Linked DNA regions of Homo sapiens. The protein of the gene in region 3 purifies or fractionates together with the protein of the main gene of each other region. This does not show direct contact. Each region holds a gene or a part of one and is shown on either strand. Other genes may lie near its edges. The genes, in order: RBM6, MYH1 and TMEM45A.

Region 1 (3,656 bases), about 50 Mb from region 3:
AGTTCGAGACCAGCCTGGCCAACATGGCAAAACTCTGTCTCTACTAAAAACACAAAAATTAGCTGGGTATGGTGGTATGCACCTGTAATCCCAGCTACTCAGGAGGTTGGGGTGGGAGAATTGCTTGAACCTGGGAGGAGGAGGTTGCAGTGAGCTGAGATCGCACCACTGCATTCCAGCCTGGGCGACAGAGCAAGACTCTGTCTCAAAAAAAAAAAAAGAAAAGAATCTTTCATTATTAAACAAATACCCAAGATGAATTAAGGTGGGTGGTGATGCTATGATTGCAAGATACAGGCTTTAATACCAGAGATATGAGAAACTCGGTAGGAGAGAAATAAGCCAATCTCTTATGGTTGGCATTTTCAGAGGAGAAGCAAGCCAACACAAAATGGGTAATGTTTCCTCTTATCACCTTTTCTAGAGGCTCTTGAAATATGAGGGGCAAAGTCCTTCATGGGAACCAGAACAACATGCTCCTTAAATTTTAGCCACCAAAGACTTCCGCTGACAGTCCCTCTCAGAGATGCCTCTGTACCTTTCATTGCTGATTCCCTGGTTCTTTTGCCCAAATGATTCTTCAGTCTCAAACTGCCTCAGATACTGCTCTACTATTTACTCCATGTAAAAGTATGATGAAATCCATTCCAACTCCTTCCTTCTCTTCCTAACTCCAAACTGCAAAGGGCCCAGCCTGCCAAGCTATAACCCAGTATTCAAGGCTAAAGTGTTCAACTCTCATGTCCTATCCCAGCAGTAGAGAAAGCCCAGCAAAATGGCAAAGACATCACTCTAGGCCAGAAAGTGAAAGTTAATTACATTCCAGGTTCATGTCACCCCCCAAAAGATGGAAACCATTTTACCTCCTCTGATGAAGCCAATCCAGGATGGCCATATCCCAGGCCTGTCCCTTTCCTCCAGCCAGTAGCCTGTTGGACACAGCCTCCTTTGCTGCTAGTGTCGATATCTTCTTTATCAACAAGTTTACGATCACTGCAAAAGAAGCAGACACCATCACTTCCTTTTTTTTTTTTTTTGAGACGGAGTTTCACTCTTTTTGCCCAGGCTGGAGTGCAATGGCTCGAACTCAGCTTACTGCAACCTCTGCCTCCTGGGTTCAGGCGATTCTCCTGCCTCAGCCTCCCGATTAGCTGGGATTGCAGGTGCCCGCCACCACACCTGGCTAATTTTTAATTTTTTTTTTTTTCAGTAGAGACAGAGTTTCACTGTGTTGGCCAGGCTGCTCTCAAACTCCTGACCTCAGGTAATCCGCATGCCTTGGCCTCCCAAAGTGCTGGATTACAGGCATGAGCCACCATGCCCAACCTGACACCATCATTTTGATGAAGACCTGCTTATAAGCCTAATATAAAATCTCTGTCCTCTTGATTCATATCTGCCTCTTATTAAGTAAGTATATTTAACAGTACCTCTGAGTGCCTGATAGCTATGTTTTGTTGCTGGGTACACAGACTACTAAGATATGGCCCTGTTCACAAGAAAGGTCTCAAACATTATGTCAAGAGATGCTTATAGAACATTGAAGAGAGCTCAACCATGGATGTAGCAACAGTAGATGTCTGCTATAGAAATACAGTAGAAGGAATCACTTTGGGAGGCTGAGGTGGGCAGATCACCTGAGGTTGGGAGTTCGTGACCAGCCTGACCAACATGGAGAAACCCTGTCTCTACTAAAAATACAAAATTAGCCGGGTGTGGTGGCGCATGCCTGTAATCCTAGCTACTCGGGAGGCTGAGGCAGGAGAATCGCTTGAACCCAGGAGGTGGAGGTTGTGGTTAGCTGATATCGCGCCATTGCACTCCAGCCTGGGCAACAAGAGTGAAACTCTGTTTCAAAAAAAAAAAAGAAATGCAGTAGAAGGAACGAAAACTCTGAAGGGGCATCACCAAAAATGACAGGAATTTCAACAGGAAGATACATCTGAATTGGATCTCGAAATAAGGAGTTTGTGTAAGAGAAAAGGAGGACACAAGCAAGGAGACACAAAAGACAATTTGTCCAAGAGAGTAGTAGTAGAAACTGACAAAGGTAAGGCTGCTTGGTGGCCGGGTGCAGTGACTCACGCCTGTAATCCCAGCACTTTGGGAGGCCAAGGCGGGTGGATCACCTGAGGTCAGGAGTTCGAGACCACCCTGACCAACAGGTGAAACCCCTCTCTACTAAAAATACAAACATTAGCCCATAGTCCCAGCTACTGGGGAGGCTGAGGCAGGAGAATCGCTTGAACCTGGGAGGCGGAGGTTGCAGTGAGCCAAGATCGTGCCATTGCACTCCAGCCTGGGCGACAGAATGAGACTGTCTCAAAACAAAAGGAAAAAAAAAAAAGGCTGCATGGGGTCAGACTGTAAAAAACCTTGAACTTATTAAGCTAAATCATGTCTCTGAACCTCATCCTTCTGGCAAAAGTTGGAGCTCAGGCCTCCCTGTAGGCAAGGTATACGGTTTGTAAAAAGACAAGTTATAAGAGTAGATTTCTCTTTACAAAAGTCATTTTGGTGGCAGGGTAGAGAATGGACTGAAGAACAGTGGGAGCAAAGACTGGGAGTAGGAGTCCAGTGTGGAGGTGGAATAGAATGGGAGATGCTGTGGTTTAAATGTGTCCCTCAAAGTACATATGTTGGAAACATAATCCCCAATGCAACAGTATTGAGAGGTGAAACTTCAGGAAGTGATTAGGTCATGAGAGCTCTGCCCTCACAAATGGATTAATGCTGTTATTGCAGGAGTGGGTTCTCCTGATAAAATGATTAGTCTGGTTTCTTTCTCCCAACCCCCTCTTTTGCCTAAGCTCTCTTGTTCTTTTACTTTCCACCATGAGGTGACACAGCAAGAAGGCCCTCACCAGATGCAGCTCCTCAATCTTGGACCTCCCAGCCTCCAGAAGCATGAGCCAAATAAATTTCTGTTCATTATAAATTACCCAGTCTGTGGTATTCAGTTATGGTATCATAAAACAGACTAAGACAGGGGGCAAGACTTAATTAGGGATTTGGTCACTAATTGGACACAGGGGATAAAGGAGGAGGATGGATCAGACCATGTAGACAGTGATGCTATGATGCTGCTACTCTGAAATAATAATACAGGAGATTTGGACTTGTTAGACTGTGGTGGTGGTTGAGGCCATGGGTACCTTAGAAAGCCCAGGTCAAGAGGGTAGAGCAGCAAGACCAAAGAAGCACTGAGAGAAGAGTCCTAGAGAACACCTGGATTTATCCAGAAAAGGAAGAGGAGCAGAAAAGGTGACTGGAAAGGAGAAGAGCCAGGAGAATGTGGTATAAAGGGTGCTGAGAATAAAGAAGGGTCTCTTTCCGCACCCCACCTAAGCCTTGTCCCAGAAGACTCAAGGCCAAGGTGTCCTTCCTCCTGATGGCTGACTCCTTCACCTAGTCCTAATCCACTGTATTTCAAATTGCAGAGAATGACCCAATGGAATGTCACACTAAATGGTCCCACTGTAACAACTCATAAAAATGAAGAGAGACTAGACTTGAATAAAAATATCAGGGTTCACTGTACCTGGTAAGAAAGTATTTTAGATGAAAACTTTTTCAGTTGTGCACACACACACTTTATTATTGGGCCATGATACAAAAATACTTCTCTTATTGTGGGTTGGATCAAATAAGCTGGA
Region 2 (3,656 bases), on a different chromosome or scaffold from region 3:
GTTCAATCCTTTTGGTGCCTCAGTTTCTTGTTAATTATAAATTAGATTCTTTTACAAGTACTGTCATCTCTTTAAAGTTATCAGAGTACATCTCAGATATAATATCCTCTGTTTGAATGAAGATGATGTTTTGGGGCTACACACATATAAACAGAAATTGTTTTCCCCCCTTAGAAAGATTTTATTTTGATTGAGGCATCCTCTCTTACCTCATCTTTCTTTAACACAATGGTACACTTTGGGGAAGGCTGATCGAAGTTAGGGCTATATTGAAGTTAGTCTGTGGCCATAAGATAGTAAATTTTTTCTCTTTGTGAAGTCATCTGACACATTTAGAAACAAAATCTCAGTCATGGCTTGATTAACACTATTTCAATCTATTAAATAATAGTCCAAGCCTTTAGCATATTATGCATTTTTCAGCTATATGCATTAATTAGCAGATAGCATGCCATTGAAATCTACAGATGACAACTACGGAATGTATCTAGCTTTGGAGAATACTGCTCTTTATATTAAACCAGCAGGACACACCCATAACTTTACCATAATATATTGAAAAACCCCACTGAATACATGACACTTATACTCAAATGCCCTGTTTCACTATAGAAAGTTTTGTTTGTGTAACTGATACATATGCTGATTTTCCACTGTTTTTCTTCTAGATCGGGAGAATCAGTCTATCTTGATCACGTATGTATTCCTATTCTGAGATTTATTGGCAGTTTGTTCTTACTGGAAAAATGACAAACCAAAAAAAGAAATTAGTTAATGTTCTCTACTAAAGCACTGAATGATCAACCTGGAACTAGATATTGGTTTAGCTTTATTATAAGGTTTACATTGCATTAGAATGTAAAATAATAATGTTCTAAATCACCTCATTTGCTGGTCTTGAAAGTTCCACAGAACTTTTTGGTGTGTAGAAAGTGTAAAATGAGCTGGGCTGGAACCCAGTATAGTGCAATGAGCAGCATACAGCCTTCAAAAGGTACAACAGTTTGGAAATACTACTAGTGGTTCATTTTTAAGGCCCACTTAGAGAATGTCTGTTCCTTCAAAGACCAAACTTGAGCCATGTCTCTAGTCCGAGGAAATGGAAAAACACATGCACGTTTCATAGAGTTTCCTACTAATTGTTCCATTCACTACAGAGGTGCTGAGTAGCTGCTTTTCAGACCCCTCAAGCCCAGGCCTCAGCACCCAGAAAAAAAGCTGACACATTATAAACACTCAAGAAATACGTGTTAAATGAACAATGACTGATTTTTTCTACTTCTTGCCAGTGCAAAGCAAAAGAAATAATACGAGCTATATGTAGGCTGAAAAGAAAGATGTAAAAGGCTCTCTAATAGAGATATAAAGACAAAGCCATGAGGTAGTTGTAGTTTCATTTGTCACAGTGCTTAATTTCTCATACGTTTGGTCTTTGACAGCGGAGAATCTGGCGCAGGGAAGACTGTGAACACCAAGCGTGTCATCCAGTACTTTGCAACAATTGCAGTTACTGGGGAGAAGAAGAAGGAAGAAGTTACTTCTGGCAAAATGCAGGTGAGTCTGATTGTTAGTCAGAATCCAGGCTCTGTCGGGACTCTCAGGTAGGAAATTCCCAAGCCCCAGATGCAAGGACTGCTCTTGCCTTTGCAGGGGACTCTGGAAGATCAAATCATCAGTGCCAACCCCCTACTGGAGGCCTTTGGCAACGCCAAGACCGTGAGGAATGACAACTCCTCTCGCTTTGTAAGTCTCTTGGTTGCCAAAGGGTCTTCTCTGCCTTTAGATGCCAGAGAAAGCATGTCTGAATTATTTCAGTGGCATCCCCACTACGTACTTCAAGCTTTGGGTATAACATCATTTTTTTTACTTACAAGGGTAAATTCATCAGGATCCACTTCGGTACCACAGGGAAACTGGCTTCTGCTGATATTGAAACATGTGAGTAACAGGACCTCCTAAATAGAATCCAAGAATGACAAATATTGGTTTGGAGGAACACTTTGCAGCTCCTGCTGAACATGGAGCTTGTAAAGCACCAGTCTGCTGCCAAACATGCTTGTGGTTAATGTCAGTCTTATCCATAGCCCACAGTATGCTTTACCCACTCCAGTCATGAGGTAATGCTTCTGTGGGAACTGCCAGGAACTGCTGGGCATGTCCAAAGTATTCCAGCCTCAGAATGATTTCAATTTTTTTTTTAAGAAAAAACTAACACTAGAAGTAAACAAGTTGTCCAGGGATTGAGGATATGTGATTTATTCCTAGTCTGAGCTTTAATACTGTTGCTTTTAGTAGTCCCTCTATTATATGGCGACAGGACCCTGCAGAGGGAGTCTCAGGACTCAATTATATTCCAAATGTCAAGGATCTTCTGTATGAGAAGTGAATATCTTGAGCCAAGCATATTTCACTTTTTTCCCAGGAGGCAGGAGGAACTGCAATAGTGTTTGTAGAGACATAATATGTGGTACTTCACAGGAACATTCAGTTGAAATCTCAAGAGGCCAGTGAGATTTAGCTAATGATCCCAAGTCCTCAAATCACTCCAGGACATTGTGTAATTTTTCCCCATAATCTGATGTCTACTATCCGTTGCAGATCTTCTGGAGAAGTCTAGAGTTACTTTCCAGCTAAAGGCTGAAAGAAGCTATCATATTTTTTATCAGATCATGTCTAACAAGAAGCCAGATCTAATTGGTAAGAAATAAATTCATAGCTAGAAGATTGTCACTGTACTATCTTCTAATGTAAAACATATGCCCTGAATTCTGTGACCCAGAAATGCTCCTGATCACCACCAACCCATACGATTATGCCTTCGTCAGTCAAGGGGAGATCACAGTGCCCAGCATTGATGACCAAGAAGAGTTGATGGCTACAGATGTAAGTTATACATGAATTTTAATTTAAAATCCATTATGCATGGGAATGGCAATAACAGCCATCTATATGTGTGTAAAAGATACAGTATAAATTCTCTTGTGCCCTAATCTTTGTCTTCTCATCTCTCATGGTAGAGTGCCATTGAAATTCTGGGCTTTACTTCAGATGAAAGAGTGTCCATCTATAAGCTCACAGGGGCTGTGATGCATTATGGGAACATGAAATTCAAGCAAAAGCAGCGTGAGGAGCAAGCTGAGCCAGATGGCACTGAAGGTACCAAATGAATCTCCATCTGGGTTTAATGAGAGAATATAGGCAAAAATGTCCATTCCAAAATTCAAGTCTTCTTTACAGCTGAGCTCCTGATGGACATACTCAGATGTACCCACACACAGACTTTCTACAAAGTTATTTACTCAATACTATGCCCCTTTGAACTGTGGGTCCCAGAGTAAGTCATATTAGGTATCTGAATTATGTTTCTGCAGTTGCTGACAAGGCAGCCTATCTCCAAAATCTGAACTCTGCAGATCTGCTCAAAGCCCTCTGCTACCCTAGGGTCAAGGTCGGCAATGAGTATGTCACCAAAGGTCAAACTGTGCAGCAGGTAAGTGCATGACCTCAATGAATCACACACATCCCAGGCCTTCATGACATGTCTTTAATAACACCAACAAACTTTATCTGTGAAGGTGTACAATGCAGTGGGTGCTCTGGCCAAAGCTGTCTACGATAAGATGTTCTTGTGGATGGTCACCCGCATCAACCAGCAG
Region 3 (3,656 bases):
CTGTTGAGTGACTAACTTTAAACCAGCATTTATTCTTTTTACTGGGAATTTTTGTGTTTGCAGATAATGTTCTGCTATGCTACCCTGTCTTATGGGATGATAAGGAATGAAATACCCTTTTGAATTTTAAATTCAATACCACTGAGTCTTGATAATCACATACCAAGGAACAGAACTTCCATTAACAGAAATCGCTAACTTACCAGGTAATGAAAGCATAATTCATTCCAACGATGACAATGGTTACTGCATAATGCCAACAAAAGCATATGGTGAGAAACAAAATATTTTCATGATCCATCAGATCCCATGCAGGACCTCCACTGGGGGGATACAGGACAAATCCAATCTGTAATTTAGAACAAAAAGCATATATTAAAATAACCAATCACATTCCCAAAAATGGTACATTTCAAAATACTTGCTTCCGAGGTAAATAACTAAGTTAACTCCAATTATCTAAGATGTAACAGATAAAACATCAGGTTTTGCTGCCTGTTTTAGTAATATAGAGAGTCTCTAATATGTCATATTTTCATAAAAGTTTTAAAAGGACATTTAATGATCAGTTTTCAAAATATAAACAGTCATCTTGCTAGGAATGTCTGGACTTTAAGAGAATGTCTTGGGTTTCTACATTGTGCAGTTTCACTCTGTTATTTCAAAATTGGAGTACAAAAAGGTTTTAAAATAAATAAATGCCCACAGTTAACATTATATTTAATGGTAAAAGACTGAAATCTTTCCCCCTAATATCAGGAACGAGACATGGATGTCTGCTTTCACACTTCTATTGAATGTTGTACTGAAAATCTTAGCTAGAGCAATTAAGTTAAGATTTAGCTAGAGTAATTAAGCCGTTAAGAAAAATAAAAGGCATCCATACTGGAAAGAAAGAGGCAAAAATATCTACATTCACAGATGACATGATCTTATATATAGAAATTCCTTTAAAAATCCATTAGAAAACTATTAGGGCTAATAAATGAGTTCAGCATAATAGCAGGATACAAAATCAATATACAAAACAGTTGTATTTCTGTACAAAAGCAATGAACTCAAAAATAAAATTAAGAAAACAGTTCTGGCCAGGCGTGGTGGCTCACGCCTGTAATCTCAGCACTTTGGGAGGCCGAGGTGGGTGGATCATGAGGTCAGGAGATCGAGACCATCCTGGCTAACACGGTGAAACCCCATCTCTACTAAACATACAAAAAAATTAGCCAGGCATGGTGGCAGGCACCTGTAGTCCCAGCTACTCGGGAGGCTGAGGCAGGAGAATGGCGTGAACCCAGGAGGCGGAGCTTGCAGTGAGCCGAGATTGTGCCACTGCTCTCCAGCCTGGGCGACAGAGCAAGTCTCCGTCTCAAAAAAAAGAAAAAGAAAAAGAAGACAGTTCCATCTACAATAGCATTAAAAAGAATAAAATACTTTAAGAATAAATTTAATCAAGGAGGTTTAAGACTTGTACACCAAAATCTGCATAACATTGTTGAAAGAAATCAAAGATCTAAATAAATGGAAAGCTATCTCATAGTCATAGACTGGAAGCTTAATACTGTTGAGCTGGCAATACCACCCAAAGCAATCTACAGATTCAATGCAATTGCCATCAAAATTCCAATGTTCTTTTTTTTTTTTTTTTTTTTTTTGCAGAAATGGTAAAAGCTGATCCTGTAACTCATATGGAATTGCAAGGGATCCAGAATAACCAAAACAACCTTAAAAAAGAAAGCTGGAGGACTTCAATACTACAGAGCTACAGTAATCAAAACAACAGTGTGATACTGGCATAATGATAAACATTTAGATCAATGAAATAAAATTGAGAGTCCAGAAATAAACTCATATGTCTGAGGTCAATTGGTTTTTGACAAGGGTGCCAAAGCCATTCAATGGGGAAAGAACAGTCTTCAACAAATGGTGCTGAGATAACCGGGTATTCACATGAAAAAAAATGAATTTGGACCCCTACCTCATATATAAAATTAACTCATGTATAAAATTATATATATATAAAATGAACTCAAAATGGATTAAAGACCTAAATATGAGAGCTAAAACCACAAAATTCCTAAAAGAAAATAGGGAGAAATCTTCATCACTTGAAATTTGTTGATTTTTTTTAAGCTACGACACCAAAAGCACCATCAACCAAAGAAGAAAACAGATAAATTGGACTTCATCAAAATTAACTTTTGTGCTTCAAAGGACACTATTAAGAAAATGAAAAGACAACTCACAGCATGAGAGAAAATATTTGCAAATCATATATCCGATGAGATTATATCTAGAATATAAAAAGAATTCCTAAAACTTAACAACAACAAAAAATTTTAATGGGCAAAGGACTTCAAGAAACATTTCCCCAAAGCAAATATACAAATGGTCAATAAGCACATGAAAAGATTATGGATATCATTGTTCATCAGGGGAATGCAAATCAAAACCACAATGAGATACCATTTTTTATTCATTAGGCTGGCAATAATAACAATAAAAATAACAAATATTGGTGAGGATATGGAGAAATTGAAATCCTTATATATTGCTGATGGGAATGTAAAATGGATAATCTTGATTATCTGGATAATGAAGATAATAATACATGAAAATGAGGATAATAATATATCCTCAAAAAGGGCCATTGCAAGGAAAGGCCTAAGCACTGTAACTGACACATAGCCAATAAATGGTAGACATTTGTAGGAGTATCCATGATATTATCTTGGTTTTGAATTTCATTTAGTTCTAGAAACCTGAAATACATTCATCCATTTATCTATCTATCTAATTTTTTATTGGGATAAAATTCTGCAGCTACTGTGGCAACCGTTTTGCAATTCCTCAGGAAGTTAAATATAGAATTCCATATGACCTGGCAATTTCACTTCTACCCAAAAGAACTAAAAATAGGTATTCAAACAAAACTTGTACATGAGTGTTCATAGTAGAACTATTAATAATAGTCAAAAGATGAAAACAACCCAAATATTCAAAAACTGATATGGATAAGCAAAATGCAGTATACTCATACAAGGGACTATCAATCGACCATAAAAGGAATGAAGTACATGCAACAACATGGATGAAACTTGAAAACATTTATACTAAGTAAAAGAAGCCAGACACAAAAGTTCACATATATTATGATTCTGATTACATAAAATATCTAGACTAGACAAATATTCATAGAGACAGAAAGCAGACCAGTGGTACCGGGGGCTAGGAGGAGAGACGGGAGAGTGACTATTTTATGGGCCCAAGGTTTCCTTTCGGGGTGATGAAAATGTTTTGGAACAGATAGAGCTGATGGGGGCACAACATTGTGAATATACTAAATGCCACTAAATTGTACACTTTAAAAATATTAATGTTATGTTAGGAAAGTTTTATCCCAATAAACAATAAGTAGATAGAGAGATAATAGATAACTGGATGAATGTATTGCAGGTTTCTGGAACTAAATGAAATTCAAAACCAGGATAATATAATGAATAATCCTACAAATGTCTACCATGTATTGGCTATGTGTCAGTTACAGTGTTTAGGTGTCTCCTTGCAATGGCCCTTTTCAAGGATGTATTATTACCCTCATTTTAATGTATTATTATCCTTATTATCTCGATAATAAAATCGGGTGATTTAGTGATTTG

Evidence for each region.
Region 1: the proteins of TMEM45A (region 3) and RBM6 purify together in Homo sapiens (affinity purification with mass spectrometry; one large-scale study listed by BioGRID and IntAct). This does not show direct contact.
Region 2: the proteins of TMEM45A (region 3) and MYH1 purify together in Homo sapiens (affinity purification with mass spectrometry; one large-scale study listed by BioGRID and IntAct). This does not show direct contact.

What each region holds. Positions count from the first base shown.
Region 1 is NC_000003.12:50,072,538-50,076,193, reverse strand, and holds part of RBM6 (RNA-binding protein 6), read right to left. Parts: intron 1,022-3,656; coding exon of another isoform or gene 1,015-1,021; exon of another isoform or gene 1,000-1,014; intron 994-999; coding exon 864-993; intron 1-863. UniProt on the Homo sapiens protein: Specifically binds poly(G) RNA homopolymers in vitro.
Region 2 is NC_000017.11:10,511,908-10,515,563, reverse strand, and holds part of MYH1 (myosin-1), read left to right. Parts: intron 1-668; coding exon 669-696; intron 697-1,439; coding exon 1,440-1,554; intron 1,555-1,650; coding exon 1,651-1,743; intron 1,744-1,874; coding exon 1,875-1,938; intron 1,939-2,598; coding exon 2,599-2,697; intron 2,698-2,779; coding exon 2,780-2,883; intron 2,884-3,017; coding exon 3,018-3,156; intron 3,157-3,371; coding exon 3,372-3,490; intron 3,491-3,575; coding exon 3,576-3,656. UniProt on the Homo sapiens protein: Required for normal hearing. It plays a role in cochlear amplification of auditory stimuli, likely through the positive regulation of prestin (SLC26A5) activity and outer hair cell (OHC) electromotility.
Region 3 is NC_000003.12:100,565,515-100,569,170, reverse strand, and holds part of TMEM45A (transmembrane protein 45A), read right to left. Parts: intron 350-3,656; coding exon 204-349; intron 1-203.